Linked DNA regions of Homo sapiens: region 2 is linked to region 1. The links come from fine-mapping of genetic effects on gene expression. Tissue or cell type: whole blood. Region 1 holds a variant in brackets; the other region holds the start of a gene. All regions are shown on one strand. Distances are from middle to middle.

The links. PIP is the estimated chance that this variant, and not a neighbour inherited with it, causes the effect.
Region 2: it holds the start of MTM1, and the variant in region 1 is fine-mapped to the expression of MTM1 in whole blood (TOPMed, PIP above 0.99).

The regions. Positions count from the first base shown.
Region 1 is chrX:150,698,532-150,703,679 of GRCh38, forward strand. MTMR1 (myotubularin related protein 1) reads left to right here. Exons shown (of 16, transcript NM_001306144.3): 2 at 664-769. Among named protein-coding and RNA genes, the nearest start is that of MTMR1, 7.7 kb to the left of the region's middle. The variant T/G (reference allele first, on the strand shown) is at 2,494.
Region 2 is chrX:150,566,307-150,571,454 of GRCh38, forward strand. MTM1 (myotubularin 1) reads left to right here and starts at 2,315. Exons shown (of 15, transcript NM_000252.3): 1 at 2,315-2,356. RefSeq lists an enhancer at 1-832 and a silencer at 2,117-2,796.

The DNA.
Region 1 (5,148 bases):
TAAATATTTCACATATTTCTCCCGGCTGGGTGTGGTGGCTCATGCCTGTAATCCTAGCACTTTGGGAGGCTAAGGCGGGTGGGTCACTCGAGCCCAGGAATTCGAGACTAGCCTGGGAAACATGGCAAAACCCTGTCTACACGCGCGCGCACACACACACACACACACACACACACACACACACACACACACACAAAAGCCGGGCCTGGTGGCATGTGCCTGTAGTCCCAGCTACATAGGAGGCTGAGGTGGGAGGATCACTTGAACCTGGGAGGTTGCAGTGAGCTGAGATTGCACCACTGCACTCCAGCCTGGGTGACAGAGTGAGACCCCATCTCACAAAAAAAAAAAGAAGTATTTCTTCCATATAATTTTAATAGAGTAAAATTCCATTAAATGGTAGAGAATAGTAAGCTTAACTAACACCTAGAATCTTCAACTTTGTTTGAGAAAATTGGGTGATTCATTTAAAATTAACCTGGAATCTAATCTTATTTCCTAGTTGTCAGTCGCTATTTCAGTTCTTACATAAAATGTGAAGGTAACCAAAGAGTCTAGTTAGTTCATCTAAAAAAAGAAGTGTTATCATATTCCTATTCAGTGCTAATTTTTTCACTGAGATCCTATGATATAACGTTTTGTAATCCATGCTATTTTTTTTAGTCCCACAGGATCACATGTTGAATGGTGTAAACAGCTTATAGCTGCTACAATTTCTAGTCAGATTTCAGGTTCAGTGACATCAGAAAATGTGTCCAGAGATTACAAGGTAAGCAACATTGAGTGTTTAATTCATTTTCAGTATGCTAAGTAGCCAAGAAGCTTTGCAGTTTTAATTCAAGTGAGCTGTTGGCCTTTTGATGCAACATGGCCATTTGCTCGAGAATAAGGATGAAAGGTTCTCTGTTGTTAGATCTGAAATGTAGAAGAGAAATTTTACCAGTATCCAGTACATGTAGTCATAGTTTTGTAATTGAAAGGAGAAGCTGTCTTTAGATGACAATGATTCTTTTAAAAATCAAGTTCCATTTTATAATAATAAATGCATATAGCTTCTTTGTTAGTATTGTGAGTTTCAGGAAATATCTTGATGTACAATACTTCCCTAACTTCACAATTTTTTAATTTATGTATTATCTGTGAGTATTCAGCATTAACATGTGATACTAGAATGTATAAAAACCCTTCCAGAATCTCAAAAGAGTATTGTATGGGCAGCCTCATTTTTCAGTCCTTACTGAAGTGAAAATCTCTTTTTGTTCATTTTAAAAGTTAGATTCCCTGCTTATTCTAAATTTAAGTGATAAGCTCCTTGTCAGCAGAGACTAGGGCAGTTTTACCACTGGCTTCCCAGGCACAATCCTGGAGCATAACAGTTGCTCAATAAATATTGAATCAATTAACAAATCAAAAAAATCGCTTGTTCCATCTTTGTTAAGGCTAAAGACTAACTTTGTTTTAATGTCAATAAACTATTAATAGGTATATTAAATGAAATCACATTTATATTTCAGTACTGATGTTTGCCTAAGTTGAGGTTTCTGTTTATTAGTGGTCATTTTTCCTGCTAGTAAGAGATGATTGATTTTTCACAAGTGTGTGTAAAATGCATTTGGTATCCCAGACTACCATTAGTTAATAGTCTCTCAATATCATGGTCCTTGCCAGACATCAAATCTTACAAATATCAAGAATTACAGTAAAGATCCTAATTAATTCTTAATAGGTACTCCTTGTTTAGGAGCTTTATCTTCAGTTCCTCTTTAGAGCTCATAGGGTAATAACAAGTGCAGAAACAGGCTCAGGAGGCCAATTAATTGAGATTTGGCTATGGTGCTGTCTCTTGCCTCATCCAAACTGGCAGATGCTGTTGATTATGCCTACCAAAGGAAGGCATAGCTGTGGATTAGCAGAAATTGGATAATCTGCCCAGCTAGAAGAGTGACAGTGTATTTCTTAATCATTTTTCCTGCTATGTGGTGTTCATGTTTGCCCATAAAAGAGCAGCTGGGGCTCCTGGACCTTAAAACCTGGTCGGGCAAACACACTGTCTCCAGGTGGGAGAAGCATTTGCTGCATCACTGATGCGTGAATGGCTGGTCACTGAGCAGCTGCGGATCGCATCAGTTCCAGTTGCCCTATTGCCTGCACCTTAGCTGAGAAACTGCCCGCTGAGTAGAGAGACTTAAGAACCCATTTTAGCAGAGAATAGCTCTCACACTTCGGGGTGATTTTCTTTATGGACAATTATGAGTTAACTGTAATGTTTTCATTAAGGTTGAATAGTTGTTAGTGTTGTGTGTGTCCTATAAAAGATTGAATGTCGACTGTGTGCATAGCTTTCTAACATTGCATGAATAGATCAGACTGAATCTGTACTTTAACATGAAGCAACTAAGTTTTTTCAATCTCAGTCTATTTACAAATTTTGTGTAGCTGAATTAGCTCATGTTGGAATGGTTGAACAGATGGTATTCAGAAAAAATAAGGCTT[T/G]CTTTCTTTTGGAAATTAAATTTTAAGTTCCTACATCAGATCATAGCTAAAGTCTTTGATGAATTATTGTAAGGGGGCATGTTTTATAATTGTCTTTGTTATATTTGCCCTGCAGCCAAATCTGAAAAGTTGGTGTTAAATTTATAACTCAGGGGTTGTTACACTTTCTTCAAGGAGAGTTTTTTTTTTTACATAATAAATACATAAAATATTTCTAAACCACAAGGATAATTGTACATGTTCCCTATAAAGTAGTTCTTAAAATCAGGGTAACCAAAATGGGCCTTTGGGACCCCTCTGGCATGGGAGCTATTGCATGGGGTTGACCCTGAAGAGCCAGATAAAGTTCCTTGAGGATTTAAGTTGCAGTCATCAGCTGATATTTGAAATTATCTGTTGTGTAAATGTCTTATTTGAAATACACACTTAATTTGGGGGCTAATTTATTATAGATTAAACTCAACATCAGTAATTAAATGGGAGCAGATGTTTATGTGGAGCAGAATGCTTGGCATCTTATTTGAAATGCTGATTGTCTTCTGAGTTGTAACAGGCTGTCGAGAATGGTTCTATGTCATCATCATCATCATCATCATCAACCCTCTAACACATACAGGCTCTGGGGTTTTGTAATGCTTTTTGACATGTCATCCATTTAAGCCTTAAAACAACCTAGTGAATCTGGGTGTGGTGGTCTGTAGTCTCAGCTACTTGGAAGGCTAAGATGGGAGGATCACTTGAGTCCAGGAGTTCAAGGCTGCAGTGTGCTGTGGTCACACTTGTGAAAAGCCAATGCACTCTAGCCTAGACAACATAGAGAGATCTTGCTTCTTTAAAAAAGTCCATTGAGGTAGCTATTACTACAATCATCATTTAATGGATGAGGAAACCGAGGCCTAGAGAGATGAAATGACTTGCTTAGGGTCATACAGTTAGACTTGGGATTTGAACTCAAGTCATCCTATTGAAAAGCTAGAGTGATTTTAAGATTTTGTCCCACCCCCATTCCCATCCACTGCTTTTCGATCTTTTTTTTTCTTCTTTTTCTTCTTCTTCTTTCTTTCTTTTTTTTTTTTTTATAGAGATGGGGTCTTACTACGTTTCCCAGGCTGGTCTTGAACTCCTGGGCTCGAGCGATCCTCCCATCTCGGCCTCCCAAAATGCTGGGATTAGAGGTGTGAGCCACCATACCCAGCCTCATCCACTGTTTTTCAAAATGTGACCCTTGGGTCTTCCCAAGACAGCATTCTCTGGAGCACCTGTAAAAATGCAGCTTCCCGGGCTCCATCCCAGATTTACTGAATCAGAGTGTCTGAGGGAGGGAAACAAGTGTCTCATATATTTCTTATGCATGATAAAATCTGAAAACCTAGGCTTCCTGAGTTTCTGTCTGTTGAAATTGGTGATGGGACCCTGCATTTCTGGTATATTACTAAGAATCTGAATAATTAGCAACTCAGATATTGGAGAATAATTATTTTATTATTTACTCATATCATAAATTGTCAGTCAGCCCAGGGTCAGCTCATCTAAAGTACAGTAAGAATATCGCTGGTATCACGTGACATGAGTTTAGATGGTATGTCCATGGACGTATTTTAGTAGCTATGTAATTATTTTCTTGTGTATTAGAAAAATCAGCACATCAGGCTTGTGATTTAGTAGATGTTATGGCTTAGAGCAGGCAAAGTATTAAAAAGGAATGGATTTTAAATCAATATAAAGATAAATACAAAATTAGTATGGGCAGTTGGCAGATACAGCAAGCCAAACTTGTTGAGGTGGTATGTGAAATGGCAAGTTTGGCAAGCATTGTCCCAGCTGAAAGAGTAGATAGCTATTATACTGAATTGTGTGGCAGCTAAATTAATAAATGCCTGATTTAATACCGAGTCATCCTGAAGATTGGCCTGTTAATTAAGACTATTACACAAAATGTAATAAAATATTTGTTTTGCTTGTCCCCCCTCCACTACCAACTCAATTGCTTTCATTTTTACTAGGCTAACAAATGGTAAAAAATTTCTCTTGAATTTGCCAGAAATTTTAAGAACAAAATTTGAATGTAATCTTCTGTAGATTAGATGAAATAATACAGTTACAAATGGAAACATTTTTAGGAACTATTAGTAGAAGTGACATCATTGATCACAGCTTCCATTGTTTGGAAAGTAGGACTAGGTTATGAAAAGAGAACATGATGGAGTAGTACAAACAATATTGGTTAGCTTGTGACCTTGTATAGTCTCTGAGGCTCAGTTTCCTTTTCTGGAAGGATAAAGGGGCTTGGATTAGATTATTCACCTCTAAATGCCTTTCTTGCTAGAACATTATTCAATTGTGTTCAAAAGAATTTGATCTGGGCCAGCTTTATGAAAATTAGGACACTATAGTTTTAATGTGATCATCTTCCTTCCTCTTGCTTCATCATTATCATCAGCTCTTCTCTGTTCTCCTTCCCTCACCCACACACACACAGTAGCTATATCTCTTCTCTAAACATTCTGAAGAAAAATGAGAAAATGGAGATGGCCTTATACTAAGTTTAATCATTGGATGGGATAGTACAGTAATTACATTTGGAGGGAAGTCGAAGGCAGAGTATAGGAAAGACTTCATTATGCTTGAGCTGGGTCTTGGTTAACATTTCTTAAA
Region 2 (5,148 bases), 130 kb before region 1:
TTTGTATTTTTAGTAGAGACGGGGTTTCACCATGTTGGCCAGGTTGGTTTCGAACTCCTGACCTCAAGTGATCCGCCCGCCTCGGCCTCCCAAGGTGCTGGGATCACAGGCCTGAGCCACCGCGCCCAGCCCATAGTGTACAACCTTTACAGTTTTCAAAGTGCTTCCTCATCTGTTGCCTCATTCGATCTCTGCACCTACACCGTGAGACAGGCACGGCAGGGGTTACTCTCTCCATTTCACAGGCCAAAGGCTAATCTTCTCTACTGGCCCTTTCTGGTTGAATTGCATCTTTCTAGAGGTGGGGCTGGGCTGGGGCTGGACCCTGGAAAAATCTTCAGGAATTACCTCCTTAGGATGAGACCATCCCTGCTCTGCACCTTCCCCACCTCCTAACCCCCAGCTCCTCCCAGCTCCATCGAAAAGCTTTGGCCTCATCTTGGGACACTTAACCAGGCCTATTATATGCAAGGTATCCCAGGCAGCTGCTGCCCTCCCTCCACCCATCCCCATTTTCCTCTATCCCTCTGCCCTAAGATTCACAGATACCAGGAATCCAGAGTTATTCAGCAGCCCACCAGGGAGCCTCTCTAGCATGCAAATTTACTGAGCGTGCTTTGAAATTCAGCACAAAAGTGAATGAGATTCAAAGGAGTTCATAGTCTGGGGAGGGGAGTTGGCAGAGCAGACGTGTAAGCAAATGATGACATCAGTACAACAAGAAGGGCTGGGTGGGGGAGACTTCTAATTGTGCGGGGGCCCAGGAGCAGCTGCTATTCTGCTGTCTTTCCAGGAGTTTGGCAAATCCAGGAGAGAGGACCAAGTGGAAAGGGCTGGAGGAAAGAAAAAACCCAGTGCATCAAGTTCCCTGGAACTAGGCCAGAGCTTGGGGTGAAGAGCAAAAAGAGGCACACTGGGAGAAGTGGCTAAAGAGTGGGTTGGGTTGGATTCTGGATGGCTTTGTTACTCTTCTAAGAAGTCTAGACTCTTCAATAAAGCATATATATATGCATATATAAATGATATATGAATATATGTGTATATGTGTGTGACTATGTAGAAACACACGTACACATATACACTGGTATCAGGTAAAATGCTGTTTTTAGATGCTGGAGAACTAACACATACAAGAGAAAAAAAACAGGTCATGATAAAGTCATCCTATTTACTCGAACTGCTCGCGTATAAGTATTATGCAGTACAAAGAATATTATGCTCATTTTTCTATGTGCCAGGTTGTCTTTTCTTTTTTTAATTTTTTTGACACGCAGTCTCGCTTTGTCACACAGGCTGGAGTGCAGTGGTGCCATCTCAGCTCACTGCAACCTCTCCCTCCCGGGTTCAAGCGATTCTCTTGCCTCAGCTTCCCGAGCAGCTGGTATTACAGACACCTGCCACCACGCCTGGATAATTTTTGTATTTTTAGTAGAGACGAGGTTTCACCATGTCGTCCAGGCTGGTCTCGAACTCCTGACCTCAGGTGATCCGCCTGCGTTGGCCTCCCAAAGTGCTAGGATTACAGGCGTGAGCCACCGCGCCCGGCCCAGATTGTTTGTTTTATTTGATTACACAATGAATTCTCTTCTTGAAGTTTGCCTTTCTTCTCTTTTTCCTGTCCCTTTCTTTTTACTGTATCAATAGTTGTCTGACCCAAACCTCAACAAGTAGAAGGAATTTTGGACTGAAATGTTTCCGTTCACTAAGTCTCAATTGCGTTCTTGGAAAGGTGCTGGCACAGCTGAGGGACACCCCAGCTGTTAGTTGAGTTTGTGAATTGCAGATCCTGCCCCAGAGTCAGTGAAATTTCTTTTTCCCTTATACTATCTCAACTTTACGCAGCCAACCCTGTGTACCCAATAATAGCTCAATTTAGTGGCATCCGCTAAAGTCTTGTATAGAGAAGTTTTCCCTCTGGATTTCCCCTTTACTGAAGAAAAATGGGGAGACCCAGACAAGGGTCCCGGGACTACGCTTCCCAGCCGCCTCCGCCCGGCGCCCAGTCCAACTTCCCTTACAGGGATGGCCCCTGGCATCTTGGCCCCGCCCATCCCCAGCACCATATTGCGAACTACAATTCCCAGCTGCCTCCATGCGTCGGACCCTTCAAAATGGGCTTCCCAGCAGCCTCTCGGGCGAAGAGCCCCGCCCTTCGGAGCTGCTCCCCAGGTCGACCCGGCGCACTCTTCCTGCCCCCTGCCCCGTCACGTGATGCAGTCCCGCCAACCGGCACGGGGAGGCGGGCAGCGGGCGGTGGCCGGGGGCGGGCAGGCCGTGGGGGGCGGACCCCAGAGGGGGCGGAGCAGGGCCCGGCAGCCGAGCAGCCTGGCAACGGCGGTGGCGCCCGGAGCCCGAGGTGGGTGCGCGCTCACGGCTGGCCTGGCTCGGAGCCGGGCACTGCGGGGACCCGTGGTGAGGGGATCGGGAGGAGGAAGTTGGGACTCCTTGGGCCAGCGGGTCGCGCGGGGCCTTGCCGCACCGTCAGGGTTGGGTGGGGGTTTCGTCCAAGCGCCGTCGCTGTCCCCGCGGGGCAGGGCTGAGGCCAGGGAGCAGCAGGCAGGTACCTCCGGCTTCCTCCCGTTCTCCCCGCCCAAGGTGGCCGGCCGGCGGCGGGCGAAGGTCGGGACGGGGGTAGGGGTTGGCTGGCCGTGGAGCTGGGGGCGGACGTCTCAGCCACTGCCTGGACTTTGCTTCCCCGTCCCGGGGCGGTGAGTGGGCCGGGCGTCCGCCCTGCCTCCCCGGCGACGCTCCGCGGCTGGTCCTCGCCTTGGCCCTCCGCACGGAGCGGGCGTCCGTCGCATCCCCGGTGGGCCCTGCGGAGCGGCCGCAGCCCGGCACTGGCCGCGAAGCCTCGATGGCCGCTCTCGGCCAGTGTTTCTGTGTCATACACGAGAGGTTTATCTGCTTTTGCAACAGTTGAGGGAAGATCTTAGAGGGAACGGTTAGTTCCCTGATACGCAGTCGGAAGTATGTACAGGCACGAGCAAGCGCCCGTGGCCGGGTTGCCTCCCTTAACTGTCTTTTGCTGCGCTCAGGAAGTGAAAACTAATTTTAGTATTTGCCTAAGCAAGTAAGAAGTGAATCTGCTGCAAAAATTATATTAGAGCTTTATAGACGCACGCATCGTTTGAGGCGAAGTGGGTTGCGACTGGTTTTGAAACAGATACACCAGATCTTCACAAGAATAAAATTATAGCATTTTAGAATTGACTGGCATCCTGAAGTTTACATTGTTCATTTGTTTCCTGGATGGGGGAACTGAGGCCCAGAGAGGGTAACTAATATGTCCCGGGCTTCAGGGCAACTTAATGGCAAAGCTAATATCACAAGCCAGCTCTTTGGGGGTATCTTGGTGTCTGTCTAGTCTGGATTCTTTTTACCACAGCTCAGTATTATTCCTTGTGAAATAAGCACCTTAGAGTCTTGAGACTGAGCCAGCAATTTTGCTAGACTGCAAACCATTTTGAATTTCCTTCAAAATCGGTTTACCAACCAAATAAGACAATCAGGCCTGTTACTTTGCAGACACGTTTGCCTTCATCCAACATATATATTGGGCACGATCATGTATTCACCAGATTTGATTCTGAATGGCTTTTGGCTGCTTCACAAAATCAAATCTACTTTTCAGAGATTCCACACCATGGGGGAGATTTGAACCAGTGGTGCTGCCTGCAGCACCAGTGTATAGTACCCTCCCGGGTGCTTGAGGGTGGATAACATTCACGGGGGGCTTGTAGATTCTAGTGTAGTTAGTAAATGATTGGTCTCTTTAACTTAAAGTTCTAACTACATTTATTAAGTTGTCGATGGTTTCATTCATTCATCAAACACAAGAATGCCAACGGTGGGCACTGGGAAGACAGCAAAGAGCCCCACTGCTGAGGTCCCTGCCTTATAGAGTTTATATGTGGGGAGGCACACAATAAAAAAATAAACAATGATATATTTTCTGGCAGAGATGAGCGCTATGAGAAAAAATAGAGCTCTGAAACCTTACAATGACAGTGAAACAGGCTGGCATGATTGAGAATGACTTGGGCATTACTTTGAATTTCTAGTTTTAGATTGCCAGCTGCTGCTCCAGTAAAGGAAATAAATCCAAAAGTAAATCTCTGAATCAAAGAGATTTTTTGGAGTCATCATTTCTCCAATGAGTGTCTTTTAGATGGTAAGCTCATCCCAGCCTCATTTTTACTCACATTTCCCCCCACCCCGACATGCAAACAGTAAGTGATTTCAAATACCTAGAGAGGTATTTTTCAAATCCTTTGCTGTTTTCATAGTTAGATAGCTGACTGTAGCTACAGAAAGCTCTGCTGAGGTCAATATTGGTTGTTGATTTCATGCCGGTGTCTGCTGGACTCTCAGGCTACCTTGCACAAGGGTTTCTCTTCCTGTGCAATGGTTTGTACTGTGAACCTCTTATCTGAAATGATCATCAGTCCTTGTGTGGTTTGTAAAGAAACTAGTTCATTTTGAAATAGCTCAAGAGAAAAGAAGCACTCATTCTTAGGAACAAGAGTGCTCGCTAATAAAATGGCATTAATGAGAGTTGACTGTAAAAGTTCATCTGTTTAATACCTTCTAAGTTCTCTCATATTCTGTATGTTCAATGGCTTCAAAGCAAAATTTTAAACTTTTACAGGTCTGAAAAATAATTAAAGTTACAAAAAATACTTTAATATTTTTTGTTCCAAAATGAGAGGCAGATTAACAAAATGTAGTTACTTAGAAACCACTGAAAACACATGGTTCTTGCTCTTATTGAGGGCTCCAAAATAAAGAGAAAAGTGGAGACTCTCAACGATTAATAGGTGACATTTTAAAGGGGTAACCAGAGGATTTCAAAGGCTGGAGTTTCTCATTTCTAAAGTTTATTCGATTTTGTAACAGAATAATAGATTGTTTTCATTATTCTTTAGTAATTTTCCTTTCCTGTTTTCGACCTCTTTGAAGTTCTGCTTTCATTATTTTCTAGTTTTCTAGTTCTTTATTTCCTTTTTGGCAGATGTGGGGGATAGGGACCGTCATTTGCCTAGAAGATTTTGACTCTGGATTGGGCAGCCTGCCCCAATTTGAATCCTGGACCTAATATTATCTGTGTGACTTTAGGCAAGGTACTTAACTCTGTGCTTTAGTTTCCTT